Regions from separate parts of the Homo sapiens genome. Here region 2 is linked to region 1. Evidence: fine-mapped expression QTL. Tissue or cell type: whole blood. Region 1 holds a variant in brackets; the other region holds the start of a gene. All regions are shown on one strand. Distances are between the middles of the regions.

Evidence for each region. PIP is the estimated chance that this variant, and not a neighbour inherited with it, causes the effect.
Region 2: it holds the start of ACBD4, and the variant in region 1 is fine-mapped to the expression of ACBD4 in whole blood (TOPMed, PIP above 0.99).

The regions. Positions count from the first base shown.
Region 1 is chr17:45,164,890-45,172,889 of GRCh38, reverse strand. It overlaps HEXIM2 (HEXIM P-TEFb complex subunit 2), which reads right to left. Exons shown (of 4, transcript NM_001303441.2): 4 at 2,855-3,875. The coding sequence ends at 3,081. It overlaps HEXIM2-AS2 (HEXIM2 antisense RNA 2), which reads left to right and starts at 1,405. Exons shown (of 2, transcript NR_135646.1): 1 at 1,405-1,926; 2 at 2,560-4,085. RefSeq lists enhancers at 1-596, 1,174-1,468, 1,555-2,513 and a silencer at 714-1,008. The variant G/C (reference allele first, on the strand shown) is at 4,855.
Region 2 is chr17:45,132,147-45,140,146 of GRCh38, reverse strand. ACBD4 (acyl-CoA binding domain containing 4) reads right to left here and starts at 4,460. Exons shown (of 10, transcript NM_001135705.3): 1 at 4,194-4,460; 2 at 3,915-4,039; 3 at 3,527-3,647; 4 at 3,371-3,455; 5 at 3,008-3,128; 6 at 2,693-2,779; 7 at 2,317-2,387; 8 at 2,159-2,234; 9 at 987-1,126. The coding sequence starts at 4,002. PLCD3 (phospholipase C delta 3) reads left to right here and starts at 7,632. Exons shown (of 15, transcript NM_133373.5): 1 at 7,632-7,899. The coding sequence starts at 7,737. RefSeq lists an enhancer at 6,839-6,908 and silencers at 7,379-7,598, 7,699-7,828.

The DNA.
Region 1 (8,000 bases):
CTTGCAGAGGGCAGCACCCCCTGGGGCCTGGGGTGGGGGAAGGGATTGGGTGAGCACCATGGGCTCCTTTGTCAGACCCAGGAAGGAGAGTGGGGGCAGCTACCGGAAGTAGGGGGATGAGAAGCTCCCTCCGGAATGTATGCCCCCCTCTCCCCTCCCCTCTCCTCCCCTCCCCACATGCACAGCCCCTGCACATGCTCAGTGTGCCCATGAATTGGGTTGGTTGGGGGAGGGCACTGACTGGCACCCCCACTTAAAGGGCCAGTGCCACACTTGCCTGTTCCCAACAAGGGCAATGGGACCTGGCCACCTTTCCCCCCAATACCGTTACTTCCCTTTGGACCCCCTCCCCCCACTCCCTGGCAGCTTCTTCCTGCCCCAGCCCACCAATCTCTGCCTACCCCTCTCCCTCATACTCTGACCCTATTGCAGGCAGGGTCTGTCCACTGGGCACAGGAGTTTCCACCTGGGGTCGGGCAGTTCCTGCCGGGGAAGAAAGAGGGATCCTAAGACAGGCTGGGCAGGGGTGGTGGGAGGCTTCAACAGTCACTCCCATGAAACATATGTTCTCTGCGCTTCCCTTCCCCGGCCCAGTTGACCAAGAGGGTCCCAGAAAGCACAGGGCGTGAGGGCAGCTGTGGAAAGGCCCAGGGAGGCTGTGTCCAAGCCCAACTTCCCCAGCTAGGGCGTGTGATGTGGGGGTGGGGGTGTCTTGTAAACTGGAGCTTCCACCATTGCAGTAGGCGGAGTGGAGGCCCAGGCTTCAAGACCAAGCAGCAGGTGTGGGAACAACTGGAAGCAGCGAAGGGGGCGGGGCACCGAGGGACCCAGGCCTGGCTCCCACCCACAGCTGAGCCGGTTCTCTCCAGTGCTAAGCCCCAGCTCTGGCCCCAGGACGATCTCCTCCCTGCACACCCCTTACCCAGGAATCAGGGAGCCAGACAGGGGGAGGGGCAGACAGGGACCCTTTTCACGGACCCCTCCCATTTGGGTTCAGGCCCTCCCACACTCCCGGCTAGCATCCTCTCCTTTGTTCTCTTCTTGCCCCACCCGCCCTCCAGCGGGGTGAGGTGGGGGTGCGGGAATTAACCCACCGAGGTGCTGCCCTATTTGCGCCCTTCAGCCTTTTACGTGTAAGGGGGATGTTGGAGGAGCAGCTGGCAGCTTCCCTGCCTCCAGGCTCCTCAGCTTCTGGGCCAAGAAAGGCCAAACTCTTCACCTGCCCCTCCCTGGCATAACCAGCCCACAATGAGCACCCAGCACCCTCACCCACACCCCTCCCCCGACACTCCAGCAGCCCTCTGGAATCTTCTCTCACCTCCTAGACACACACACACAGAGGCACCTCCGGGTAAACAACCTTTGTCCACCTTTGTCCCAGGCCTCCTCTCTCCCTCGGGCTCCATGCTGAGGAATGCAGCTGGGAGGCTGCCAGCAAATGCCAAGGGGCCTCTGGGTCCCAGGCTAGCACCCCACAGCACCCCACAGGGGCAGGCAGGCCTCCAGAGGCTCTCCTGGAATCCAAAAAGCCACTTCCTCGCTAAGCCTCCGGTTTCCCGTCTGCAAAGTGGCGATGATCATTCCTGCTGCCCTTCCTGACTGAGCTGTCTGAGGACCCAGGGTTCCAGGGGCAGGTCTCCCAGGATGAGATTTTGCTTTCTCTTGAAACCCATGCGTTCCTAGAATCTGTTCTGTGTTTCATTGTAGGAGGCTCTGGCCAGGCCTGGGTGTGGCAGGATAGAAATGAAAGTTGTCCTGGCAACACACAAGATTTCATCAACATTTCCATCCCCAGCAGCTCCTGGGCCAAGCCTCATCTTGCCCAGTGTGGCCTGTCAAGATGACGGCCTGGAAGAGAAGCCAGACTGGGCAGCCAGGCCTCTGCCCCTCCCCTTGCCTGGTGGCACAGCCAGCACTGGCTCACTGGTGAGTTGACTAATTTCCTCCGCCACCATTAGTTGTCCATGTTCATTGCTGCCTGACACCCAACACCAGTCTGCAAGGGCACCAGGAGGGGATGGAAGAGACAGGGTGTCTGGGGAAGGGTGGGTCTGAGTGCGAGGGGGTGGGTGAGCTTGTCTCAGAGCCTGACGCTGGCTGGTGGTATCTGCGTTACCCAGGCTGACCCAGCTCTCTCTGATGCAGACAGGCGAGGGCCTCACACACTTCAGAGAATTCACACCCACATGATGAGGCTGAGAGGAGCAGGACGCACAGACACATGGCAGGCACCAGGAGAGCCAGGCTGCTCTGCTCTGCTGGCGATCCATGTGCTGTCCCCCTCTGTCTCTTGACTTTATTTTCCATCAGGAGAGCGCCTCCCTTATTACCCTTGGGAGGTAAGGGACAAACACAAACACATGATGACTAACCTCAGGCCCAACCCCCTGCAGAGAGGGGTCAGGGTTGGGGGCTGTCAAGAACAAGGAGGCACAAGGCACCCAGAACCCGTCTAGTCCAGCCTTTAAACTGTGGGGAGAATACAGGGAGCTCAGGAGCAAACTCTGAAGGAACCCCTGGGCCTGGGTCTTCTCCGAAAACCCCCGTTCTCTCCTCCAGGGAAAGCTCACAACTCCTCACAGCGATCTGGTATCTTGAGCGTCAGTTTCTGGCCGAAACTGGGGGCTCCTGACTGAACTCCCTCCCACCTAGAAAACCTTCTGTGCAGTCTGATTGCTCCAACACCCACAGAGCAGGATTCAGGTATCCCGGAGACCTTGGGAGGTCCCCATCCAGAGGTCTGCTGTCCTGCCAGGCTTGGGGCAGCAGGGACTGGGACCCCACTCAGACCTCTCTGGGGCAAATGTTTTGGTTCTCACAACAGCCCTAGTGAAATCAATCCTAGATACTCCCATTTGGTCCCACCAAGGCCATTTAATTTCTCTGTAAAGGGTAAGATGACACAAAAGAGCCAACTATGGAAACGGTGAGGTGGGAGTCTGAACCGATTTAGCTGTTCTCAGGGCGCACAGGGTGTTGACGGTGGTTTTCATCTGCCACCTGCCTCCTTGAGACCCAGCTGGCCTGAGTGTGCACGAAATGGGACCTTCTCCTTGGGTCCACCAGGCTGGGAGGCACCCCTAGGTACCCGGCTCCTCATCACAGCGGCAGCCCTCTCGGTTCCACATCTGGTTCTCCTGACGAAGCCGCTGGTTTTCGGTCCGGAGCCTCTGGACCTCGGCAGCCAGCTCCTCCACCTGGCGGCAGGACTGCTGGCCGGTGCACGCCTGCAGCTGCTGCAGCCTCCTAGTCTCCTCCTCCGCCTGCGACAGCCGCTTCTCCAGCTCCAGGTAGTCTCGCACCAGCTCCTGCTTGCTGCGGCCCTGCAGGCTCTCGGTGTGGAAGCGTTCGTAAGTCTCAGAGAAGTCCTTCCGCTGGAACTCACCGTGCGCTCGGCCCCGCCCATCACTGTCCCCGGCCTCACTCTCCCCACTGGAACCTGGGTGGGAGATCCCATGGGGCACATCCAAGTTGGGCTCCTCCGGGTCCCTGTCATTCATCAGGAACTGGGTGGTGTTGTAGGGGGCCACGGGCTGGCCTTTGGCGAACATCTCTTCGCGGACCCGGGAGGCCCTCTGGCTCTGCCTCTCATCCCGCTGTTGTTTCTCAGCCCAGCTCAGCTCCAGGTAGGGTCGCCAGTGCCTTTTGCGCTTCGATGGCCGCCGACGGTGTTTCTTCCGGGCCAGCACAGCCTCCGCTGAGCAGCCCCCTGGGCTCTGGGTCCGGGGACTCCTACTGTTCCAGCCCAGGCCACCGACAGCCCCAGCAAGATCTTCATCCTCTGAGTGGCTCTCCATCCGCGGTGTCAGGGGCAGGGAACCACCAGAGTCATGACGCTCAGGGGGTGTTTGGGGGCTCCCCGGGGCACCAGAGGTCTAAAGAGAGGGAGGAGGAAGAAGGATGGATCAGACAGCCTGTCCTTGGAGGTGGAACCTTTCCCTCTCTACCTAGCCTGAAGCCTACCTTCCTACACTCAGCTAACTTGGTCACTCTTAGCCCCTCAACCTTTTGGAACCATTTGTTTACAAAGAGACCTGTCTACTGTCTGTCCCCCAACCTTCCCCAAGTAAACTCATGGTGAGAGCAGGAATTTTGCCTGTGTGTTTCACTCTGTAATTTCAATGCCTAGAATAATACCTGGCACTGAGTAGGAGTTCCATAAATACTGTCCAAATGAGTAAAGTAGGAGAAGAAGAAAACTGGGATAGAAGGTGGATCTTGATGCATTTGCTTGATCAGAAGCCCAAATGGCACCGGCTCTTCCCTCTTCCCAGAAAACCTGACTTTCAAACACCACTGGCTTCATGGGCAGGTGACCTGTGAAGTCCCACAGAGGCCCCACACCTGGCTTCATGCTGTCCTTCTCTTAAACATGTTATTCAAAAAAAAAAAAAACCTTATTTTATTTCATTTTTTGAGATGGAGTCTCGCTCTGTCACCCAGGCTGGAGTGCAGTGGTGCAATCTCGGCTCACTGTAACCTCTGCCTCCGGAATTCTCCAGCCTCAGCCTCCCGCGTAGCTGGGATCACAGGCACGTGCCACCACGCCTGGCTAATTTTTTGTATTTTTAGTAGAGACAGGGTTTCACCATGTTGGCCAGCCTAGTCTCAAACTCCTGACCTCAGGTGATCCACCCGCCTCGGCCTCCCAAAGTGCTGAGATTACAGGTGTGAGCCACCGCGCAAGGCCTAAAATAAGTTTTTTAGGCTCAGCATGGTGGCTCAGGCCTGTAATCCCAGCACTTTGGGAGGCCGAGGTGGGCGGATCACCTGAGGTCAGGAGTTCGAGACTAGGATGGCCAACATGGTGAAACCCTATGTCTACGAAAAATACAAAAATAAGCCGGGCGTGGT[G/C]GCACGTGCCTGTGATCCCAGCTATGCAGGAGGCTGAGGCTGGAGAATGTGGGCGGCGGAAGTTGCAGTGAGCCAAGATTACACCACTGCACTCCAGCCTGGGTGACAGAGCGAGACTCCATCTCAAAAACAAACAAACAGGCCGGGCGAGGTGGCTCACACCTGTAATCCCAGCACTTTGGGAGGCCAAGATGGGTGAATCACGAGGTCAGGAGATCGAGACTATCCTAGTTAATGTGGTGAAACCCCATCTCTACTAAAAATACAAAAAAAATTAGCTGGGTGTGATGGCGGGCGCCTGTAGTCCCAGCTAGTCGGGACGCGGAGCTTGCAGTGAGCTGAGATCGCGCCACTGCACTTCAGCCTGGGCGACAGAGTGAGACTCCATCTCGAAACAAACAAACAAACAAACAAACAAAAAAGACTCTTATTTTTAGAGACAGGGTCTTACTCTGTTGCCCAGGCAAGAATGCAGTGAGGTGCAATAATAACTCCCTGCAGCCTCAAACTCCTAGACTCAAGCAATCCTCTTGCCTTAGCCTCTCAAGTAACTGGATCTACAGGCATGCGCCACCACACCTGGCCACTGTCTTTAACTTTTTAATAATTTTTGAATAAGGTGCCCTTTTGCACTGGGCCCCACAAATTATGCAGCTGATCCTGCTTCCAGCTATTTGCATGGCTTTTTTTTCATCTTTTTTTTTGTGTGTGTGTGAGAGTCTTGCTCTGTTGCCCAGGCTGGAGTGCAGTGTTGCCATCTCAGCTCACTGCAACCTCCGCCTTCCAGGTTCAAGCGATTCTCCTGCCTCAGCCTCCTGAGTAGCTGGGACTACAGGCGTGTACCACCATGCCAGGCTAATTTTAGTATTTTTAGTACAGATGGGGTTTCACCATGTTGGCCAGGCTGGTGTGGAACTCCTGACCTCAAGTAATCTGCCCACCTTGGCCTCCCAAAGTGCTGGGATTATAGGCATGAGCCACTGCACCTGGGCTTTTTTTTTTTTTTTTTTTGAGACAGAGTCTTGCTCTGTCACCCAGGCTGGAGTGCAGTGGCCCGACCTCAGCTCACTGCAACCTCCACCTCCCAGGTTCAAGCGATTATCCTGCCTCAGCCTCCAGAGTAGCTGGGATCACAGGTGCCCACTACCATGCCCAGCTAATTTTTTGTATTTTTAGTAGAGATGGGGTTTCACCATGTTGGCCAGGCTGGTCTCAAACTCCTGACATCAAGTGATCCACCCGCCTCGGCCTCCCAAAGTACTGGGATTACAGGTGTGAGCCACCACTGCCAGCTACCTTTTTTCATCTTTTAGAGCTTAGTTCCAATGTCACTTCCTTAGGGAGCCCCTCCTTGACCACCCTACCTAATGTAGACTCCCCCATCTCGCCTCCCTAGTGATTCTATCACATCACACAGTTAGCACATAGCATTTAGCATATGGCCATTTAACATCTGTCTTCCTCATGTGAGAACGCATCTCGTCTGTCTGTCCAAGTCACCACTATATTCCTATGCACAGCACAAGGGCAGTGCTCAGTAAATATCTGTTAAGTGGACTAAAGATTATAGGATAGGGAGATCCAAAAGATATTGGGAAATAAGACTTACGGCCGGGTGTAGTGGCTCACGCTGGTAATCCTAGCACTTTGGGAGGCCAAGGAGGGTGGATTGCTCAAGCCCAGGAGTTCAAGACCAGCCTGGGCAACATGGCGAAACCCCATCTCTACCAAAAATTACAAAAAATTAGCCAGGCATGGTGGTGAGCACCTGTAATCCCAGCTGCTTGGGAGGCTGAAGTGGGAGGATCACTTGAGTCCAGAAGGTTGAGGCTGCAGTGAGCTGTGATTGCGCCACTGCGCTCCAGCCTGAGTGACAGAGCTGGAGTCTCAAAAAAAAGACTCCCCTTCTCTATCCTTCTGGCATAAAGAAGATGCAGCGGGCCGGGCGTGGTGGCTCACGCCTGTAATCCCAGCACTTTGGGAGGCCAAGGCAGGTAGATCACCTGAGTTCAGGAGTTTGAGACCAGCCTGACCAACATGGCCAAACCCCGTCTCTACTAAAAATACAAAAAAATTGGCCGGGTGTGGTGGCACGCACCTGTAATCCCAGCTACTTGGGAGGCTGAGGTAGGAGAATCGCTTGAACCTGGGAGGCGGAGGTTGCAGTGAGGCGAGATCACGCCACTGCACTCCAGCCTGGGCAACAGAGTAAGACTCTGGCTCAAAAAATAAAATAAAATAATTAAATTAAATTAAATTAAATTAAAAAATAAAATAAAATAAAATGATGGAACATATTTATTCCAGGCAGAAGTTGGTAGGTGGTATCACTCTCCAATATGAATGGCAGGAAAGAGATCCTCTCCAAAGAGAGGGAGGGTCAGCCTCCAGTCTGCAGTGAGAGAGTTCCAGAACTTATCTAAGAGGTATAAAGGCTGTCAAGAGAGTGTATGTTCAGGGCATCTGTTTATCTCTGTTGTGGGAAGGGTGGGAGTACTGGGTGTGGGAGATGGGAAATGAATTGCTCTAAGTTTGTGGTTTGGGCAATTTCTAATAATAACCACTACCACTGGTATGTTGTTGAATAATATGCAACGCAGTTCAGAGACATGTGAGCGTGGTCCATGCACACAGGGTGTGTACTGAGGAATGTGGTGTATGCGCGGCCCTTAAGAGCCAGGCATATGTCATGTGTGTTTTGCAGACCCCGAAGAGAATTTCAGGGAAAAGGAGGTATGTCAGGGTGTGTATGTGTGTGGGGTGTGTACGTATGTGGAGTTTGTTGTGTTACTTCACCTGCAGGGAGATCACGAAATAAAAGCAATAGCCCTTGTCTCCACCAGTGGCTTGGGCCAAATAAGACAGAGCTGTTGCCCCAGCTGGGACAGGCAAGGCCACTGGGATGCCAAGGCATGGTGGCTTGTTGGTGTGCACAATCAGTCACATGCTCCCAGCCCTCAGTAGAAGTGCCCTATTGATCCTCCACCCTCACCCAAGCGAGCCCAGCCCCCTAGCCCTACCTGCTGCCTCCCTCCTGAAGACTTGGCCCTCTACCACCATGACCACTACTGTAGATAAGCTGTGTGACCTGGCTGAACATTGTAGCCCTGACATGTCATGAATTCCGAATTCAGTCAATCCAGAAA
Region 2 (8,000 bases), 33 kb after region 1:
GTTGAGGGGGAGGAGCAGTGTTGAAAAGTTAGCCATCGTGGATCTGAGGAAATCCTGCTGCTGTGGGCTCACACCTGCTGTGCTGAGTGGATTAGCGGTCACCCCAGAGATGCCTCACATCTGGGAACCCAGCCCTCTCTGCCCCCACTACCTCAGGCTTTTCAAGAACAGACCCACTCAGAGTTAATGGTGGGTACCAGCTTTGCAGGGAGACAGAATAGGGGCCACTGCCAACTCCATCGCTTAATGTTAATATTAACAGCAATAGTAGCAACAGAACCGACTGGAGAAGGCTTTCTGTTTGGTGGGCACCACTGAAGCACCAACATGCATGGTTGAATCCTCACAGTAGCTCAGAGAGGCTCTCCCAGGCTGTGTGCCCTCAGGCAAATTAGCCCCTTGGAGCTTTAGTTTCCCTCTCTAAAAGGGAGGTGAAAAGAAACTCTATCTCATAGGGCTGTTGTGTGGATTCAGTGGGAAGATGCCCATGAGTGTTTCGCACCCAGCGGGGCTCCAGCAATGGCAGCTGTTATTTAGTTTGCAGGAGCCCAGGATCCCAAGTGTCAGAGGCAAGCAGAGCTAGGAGTTGAGGAGAGGGATGCAAGGGCTGAACCATTTGGGGCAAATCCTAATTCTGGGAATGGAAGTCCTGACTGAGGGGCAATAGGGACCCGCATCCTCAATGCCCAGAGCAGACACATCATGGCCCTTCCCACACGGGATTAGTCCTGAGGCTTAGCTTCTCTCCAGGCAGAGGGAGGGGAGAACGGCAAAGGGCCCCACCCACTGTGCCTTCAGAGTAGAAGCATGTCAGCCCCCTCCACCCTCACCCCCACCTCCTGCCTGTAGCAGGAGCCATGCCATTCTCTGGAGAGAGATGTGGGCAGGTGGAGGCGTGAGGACAAAAACAAAAGTGGCTGGAAGAGGAGCCCAGAATAAAGACCGGATTCTGCCATCATCTTGTCCTATGGGGTGGGGGACTCTACCTGCTCAGGGGGCCGGGGCATGCTCTCCAGGCTCTGCACCCTCGCCTGCACCTCCTGCATGCTCTCCTGTAGTGCTCGAACTGTCCCCAGCAGCCACACGTCCAACTCCTGGGGCCCCGGCGGGCTGCCCCGCAACCCCTCTGCGGAGCACAGACACACAGGGAAGGGGGCTCAGGAGGCAATTCAGCTCTGGGCAGGGTGGGGGCAGGCTGGGGCAAGCCCAGGAAAGTGTAGGAGTGGAACCCAGTCGCTGTACCAAGTGTGATTCTTGCAAAGTCCATCTATGTAGCTGAGTAATGGGCTGCTATGGGTTTAATCCCAGCATGGCCGCTTATGACACAGATCAAGTCATTACCTTTTTTTTTTTTTTTTTAGACAGTCTTGCTCTGTTGCCCAGGCTGGAGTGCAGTGGCACAATGACCTCGGCTCACTGCAACCTCCGCCTCCTGGATTCAAGCGATTCTCCTGCCTCAGCCTCCCGAATACCTGGGATTATAGGTGCCCACCACACCCGGCTAATATTTGTATTTTTAATACAGACAGGGTTTCACCATGTTGGCCAGGCTGGTCTCAAACTCCTGACCTCAGGTGATCTGCCTGCCTTGGCCTCCCAAAGTGCTGGGATTACAGGCGTGAGCCATCGTGCCCGGCCAAAGTCATTAACTTCTCTGGGCATCATTTTGTCATCTAAAAATTAGGAGAAGATGTCATTTCTCTCACAGGGCTGCTTGCTCAGAGGAAAAAAGGAGAAACTTTTCAAAATGTCCATACAGGACCTGACACACAACAGGAGTTCTAGAAGGGAAGAGGGCAGAACTCATTGTCTTCTGAGATTTCCAAACGGGGGAGTCCAGAGAATATGGATGACTTCCTGAGGCTGTGCAGCTGTAGGTGGGAGAACTGGGCTAGGACTCCCATCCCGCTGGCCTTACTCAGGACCTGCAGAGGGTGCAGACTCCTGGGTGCCCTTTGGGGAGAGGAGGGAGGGCGGGGACTTTGCCCATCCAGGCAGGTATCTGGCTGGTTGGCAGCCCTTCCTGGACAGAGGCTTCTCGCTCAGTGCCCAGCAATGGACTTTCAACTCTGCCCTAGGAAGGCAGCCAAGAGAAAGCCTGGGGTGCCAGGACCACGGGAAAGGGCAGAAGTGGGTGAGAGGTTGGGTAGGAGCTCACCTTTCTTTGTGGGGGGCACGGGGCTGTTCCTGGGATCACGCTTTCCTCCAGATGCTGCCCGCTGCTCTGTCCAAACCTGCTGAGATGAGTCAGAGAGCTGAGGGTGGGAGTGGGAGCACAGTGGGGTGGGAAAAGGGGGGAATGGGGACTGGGCTCACCAGCTCAGGCTCCAGCTGCTCCAGGGAATCACAGAAAACCTCGGAGTCCAGGTCCCTGGGTGAATGGGACTCTGTGGAGGGGTTGGTAGAGTTACTGCCCAGAGGGAAGCTGTGGAGGGAGAGCAGGAGTGTGCACTGGGCAGAAGCACCTGTTTAGGAGACACTAGAGATACGAGGCACTAGAGATATCAACACCTGAGGCACAGATGGGCGCCAGAAGCAAGGCCCTGGAACAGGAATCCTAGACCCCGGTCCCCACCTTTGGGAGCACAGGAAGTCTCAGTGTCTGTGGAGGGCACAGCGTGGCATCCAGCCTTCTCCCCTCCAGCCCTCCCCCAGCCTGAGTTTGGTCCACCCCTCCTGCTCAAGCACTAACCTGGGCTTGGGGGTGCCGGTTCCTTGGGGAGGCAGGGAGGCTCTGAAACAGCCCCAACATCTCCATTCACAACCTGCTCTTTCCAACCTGCCAAGACACAGCACCCAGAGGTGGGCCTGGGGAGAGGCTGGCACCTCCCAGTGTGATCAAGCCCCTACTCGTGATGAGCCGTGGATGCTGCCTGGGATCCACCTCTCGGGGGCTTGGGGGCCCTAACAGGGATGTCGCCTGGAGCCCTCTGCCCCCAGCCCACCTCAGCCTAGACCTAAGACGGTTCACTCAGCACTTTTGGAGCTCCCAGCCTGGGAGTCTGACCTGTGACCCTTCTCAGGAAGGTCTCTGGGGGCCTCGGCATGTCAGGGATCACCTGGTACAGGGGCTCGAAGTAACCAAACATGTCCTCTGCCACCTCACCCAGGGGCACTGTGTCGATCACCTGTAGGGGAGGGGGTCTGTTGGGGACGGAGTGGCCTCCTGTCCCTTCCTCCCTGCTCCTGCCCTGTCACACACCTCCACCCTGTGCCCAGTCAGGGGCCAAAGATAGGCAGGGTTGGGGGTAACATGAAGGTGGTGATTCCCATGAGGGGGTCCATGTGTAGGAAACGTAGTGGGGGTCAGAACTGGAAGGGTGAGGCCACCTGGCCAGGAGCCTGGGGACAGAGAACCTGCAGCCCTTACCTTCTGTGCCACCAGTTTCATTTCAGTGATGTAGGCAGACATGGCCTCCTCCCTGCTCATCTTGCCCAGACTGTTCCAGGCGTCCCTGGGGGCAGAGGGCTGTGAGAGGGCTGCTTGACAGCTGAGGCTTGTCTGCCCAGCCAGCAGGGAGCTCACCACTTATATCGTCCAATGGGGTCCCAGAACCCGGGCCGGGGGACCAGGCAGGGCCCCATGGTGGCCTGCTTGTAGTAACTGTAGAATCGCAGCATCTCTTCATAGGAGGGGCGGTAAGAACCTGGGCAGAGAGTTGGGAAGCCAGGGCAAAGCATCACTCCCAGCTCCAAGGGGCGGAGGGGCGGGAGAACCCTGCTTGGAAAGGGCAGAGGTGGTGATGGGTCCCACCCAGGGCATCTGGACTAGGATAGGAAGCGGAGGGAACCCCCAGGACAGCCCAGGCAGGGGCTTGTCTGCAAAAACTGCAGTGATCAGGACCATTCTTTCTTCAGAGTCAGACCCCAGGCGTCCTGAATGCGAGTCCAAATGCGAGTCCCCGCAGCCTCACCGTTCTTGGGCAGGTTCTGGATGACGCTCACTGCAGCCTGGAACTGTTTCTGGCAGTCGGGCTCTGGGCTTTCTTTCTCGGTGCCCATGCTGCTGCGAGCCCTGGGGCCCTACTTTTGAGCGACTCTGCAAGAAGCAGCCTTCGTGTGAGGGGGCCTCCAGGGTCCCCCCGGCACCATAAGCCAAGGATTCACTTCCCAGAGGGGCAAACTAAGCTCTTTAGAGGCCTCAGACACCCTGGGAGGTCAGAAGTTGTGGTTGAGGAGCCTCCTTTTCCTACCTCAAGGCAGTGTGGTGGGGTCAGGGTCGCCAGGTGGCGAGGCAGGTGGCGAGGGCCTCAGTGCCAGATGTGTCCGTCCCCAGATGCGCCTCCTTTAGGTGCACATCTCCAACTCCCGAACAGGTGGAGAAACAAGATAGGAGTACTCAGGGCGGGGCGAACAGTCTCCCACCCTGGCCGCCTGCACCTTGGCCCAGCGTGTGCCCCGCGGCGCCCACTGCCAGGACACCTGGGTCCTCTCTCGCCACCACCCCGCGGCTTCCTACTGACCCCGGGGTCCAGCAGGGCCGGGATGGCGACGCAGATCGAGGGGGGGAATTTAGGCCAATGAGAGAGCCTGTTTCACATTCGGCTTACCTACCTCAACCATTCAGCACAGCTCTTTCAAGATCATGCAAATAGTTTCTCAGAGCCTTTCCCAATCAGGCGGGGCTTAATCGAAGGGTCGGACTTCCCAGCCCGGGATGGCCAAGGCGGGCGGCAGCGCCCCCTGGTGCACATAGTGAAAGGTCGTGGCGTCCTAGCGCCCCCTGGTGGAAATCCGCATCTGTTCGCTGATATCCAGGCCTGGCCGATCCGAGGCAACCCACTCAGCTCTCTAGACACTTAGGCACTGGGGATTAAAAAAAGTCATGTCCTGTGGTCAGGTGTTCTAGAGGAAGGACATCACAGCTCAGTTTTGGAAGATGGTCGGGCACGGTGGCTCATGCCTGTAATCCCAGAACTTTGGGAGGCCAAGGCGGGCGGATCACCTGAGGTCAGGAGTTCGAGACCAGCCGGGCCAACATAGTGAAACCCCATCTCTACTAAAAATACACAAATTAGCCGGGCGTGGTGGCGCGCGCCTGTAATCCCAGCTACACGGGAGGCTGAGGCAGGAGAATCGCTTGAACCCGGGAGGTGGAGATTGCAGTGAGCCAAGATTGCCCCACTGCACTCCAGCCTGGGCGAGAGTGAGACTCCATCTCAAAAAAAAAAAAAGAGTAAGCAAAATGGACATCGCAGAATGATGGTTACCAGAGGCTGGGAAGGGTACTGGGGAGGGGGGGAAATGGGTACAAAAATACAGTTAGAATGAATGAGATCCAGTGTTCGGTAGCACAATACAACGATTATAGTTACCAATAATTTATTGTATCTTTTTATTTTGTTTATTTTATTTTATTTATTTATTTTTTTGAGACGGAGTCTCACTCTCTCCCGGGCTGGAGTGCAGTGGCGTGATCTCGGCTCACTGCAATCTCCGCCTCCCGGGTTCACGCCATTCTCCTGCCTCAGCCTCCCGAGCAACTGGGATTACAGGCGCTCGCCACCACGCCCAGCTAATTTTTTGTATTTTTTAGTAGAGACGGGGTTTCACCATATTAGCCAGGATGGTCTCGATCTCCTGACCTCGTGATCCGCCGACCTCGGCCTCCCAAAGTGTTGGGATTACAGGCGTGAGCCACCGCGCCCGGCCTATTGTATCTTTTTAAATTAATTATTTTAAAAACAATTTTTGTAGAGGCAGAAGTCTCATTATGTTGCCCAGGCTGGTCTTCATTCAATACCTGGCCTCAAGTGATCATCCCACCTCTGCCTCCCAAAGTGCTGGGATTACAGGCGTGAGCCACCGCATCCGGCCAATTTATTGTATATTTCAAAATAACTGGGCGGGAAGTGGTGGCTCAGGCCTGTAGTCCCAACACTTTGGGAGGCCAAGGCAAGAGAATTGCTTTGAGGCTGCAGTGAGCTATGATCATGCCACTGCACTCCACCCTGGGCAACCAAGTAGTGAGACCTTGTCTCTAATAAACAAATAAAATACAAATACAAATAACTAAAAGCGGAATTGGAATGTTCCTAATACAAAGGAATGATAAATGCTTGAGGTGATGGTTACTTCAATTACCTTGATTTGATCATTACACATTTTATACCTGTATCAAAACATTACATGCCTCTCCATAATTCTCTGCAACTATTAAGTGTCCATAACAATTAAAAGAAATGTAGACTTAGCCTATCCAACAACAAGAATAACAAAAGGGTAAACCAGGAGAATAAGGAAGGTTGTTTCTGGAGGAAGGAACGGCAGGATCAAAAGCACAAAGGCGAATACGATAATCAAGAAGAAAATTCAGGGCCGGGCGCGGTGGCTCACGCCTGTAATCCCAGCACTTTGGGAGGCCGAGGCGGGCGGATCACGAGGTCAGGAGATCGAGACCATCCCGGCTAAAACGGTGAAACCCCGTCTCTACTAAAAATACAAAAAATTAGCCGGGCGTAGTGGCGGGCGCCTGTAGTCCCAGCTACTTGGGAGGCTGAGGCAGGAGAATGGCGTGAACCCGGGAGGCGGAGCTTGCAGTGAGCCGAGATCCCGCCACTGCACTCCAGCCTGGGCGACGGAGCGAGACTCCGTCTCAAAAAAAAAAAAAAAAAAAAAAAAAAAAAGAAAATTCAGGACCCCAGAGTGGCGTAGGGACCCAAGCCAGTGTGCAGAATCTCTGGGCCTGGGAGATCTGAGGATGGGGTAGAGCAGGGCAAGTAGGTGGCAAATCAGGCCCTGAGCACTAGCCTCTCTGTAGGATGCCACGCCGCTGGCCGCCGCAAAGTGGCGGTGTGCGCCCATGTCTCTGCCGGACCCAGGCCACCGGCCGCAGAAACGCTGCCACCTGGACGTCCCCCACTTCGCGCACGCACTCTGGTGCTTGCATATAAATAGTAAGTGCACACCCGACTCGGCCACCAGAACCTGCACACGGATGCCCACCCACGGGTTGACGTCGCGGACAACTACACCGCGGGTGCCGGGCTGGGGTGCCGGCCTGTCCAAGCCTCGAACCCAGAACCAGTTGCTGGGGACTCCAGGCTCGGCTCCGCCTCACGCTCCCCAGGTCCGTCAGCTCCGAGACTGTGGCTCTCCGAGGGGGCAGCACCTGGCCTGGCACAGGGAGGTTAATCCTATGACGTCACTGCCAACCTCCCCACCCCCATGCCCATCCCTTCGGGTTCGCGCTGCCCCGAGCGGCTCAGCTCCCGGGGTTCTGCCTTCGCTCCCGGCCCTGCGTCCTGTCCCGGCTCTGGTTCCCTGCTGAGGCCTGCGGCGCGACGGGGACGCGGAAGGGAAGGAGGAGGGGGTCCTGCGTCAGCCTCGAGTCAGGGCCCCCGGGAAGGAGAGGGTGTCTGTGCCAGAGGATGGCCCTCGTCCCCGGTGCCGGCTCCCACCCCCAGCCCCGCAGCATGGGGGCTCTAGTCACCCTTGCGGCCAAGATCAGAGGCTCGCCCGGACTAAGGGGAGACGGACTCACGAGCAGGGGCGAGCGCTGAGGCTCCGGGCTTCCAGGCCACCGCCTGGCCCCGCCCTCGCACCGCCCCGGCCCCGCCCCCTTCCCTTCCCGCCCCGCCCCGCCCCACCTCCTGCTGCCTCCTCCGACTCCCTCCCGCGCCGCTAAGTTTCTTCGCTCGCCGCCTCGCTCAGAGCCGGGGCCGGGCCAGAGCGGCGCCCCGCTGCCCTGTCCCCGCGTGCAGACCCCGGGCCCGGCCCCGGCCCCCCGCCAAGCCATGCTGTGCGGCCGCTGGAGGCGTTGCCGCCGCCCGCCCGAGGAGCCCCCGGTGGCCGCCCAGGTCGCAGCCCAAGTCGCGGCGCCGGTCGCTCTCCCGTCCCCGCCGACTCCCTCCGATGGCGGCACCAAGAGGCCCGGGCTGCGGGCGCTGAAGAAGATGGGTCAGTGACGGGCAAGGGGCGGTGGGGTGGGCGCGGACCGTTCCCAGAGGCCCAGTCTGGGGCGCTCCAGGGAGCAGTTCGTGGATTCCCCAGGCTGCACG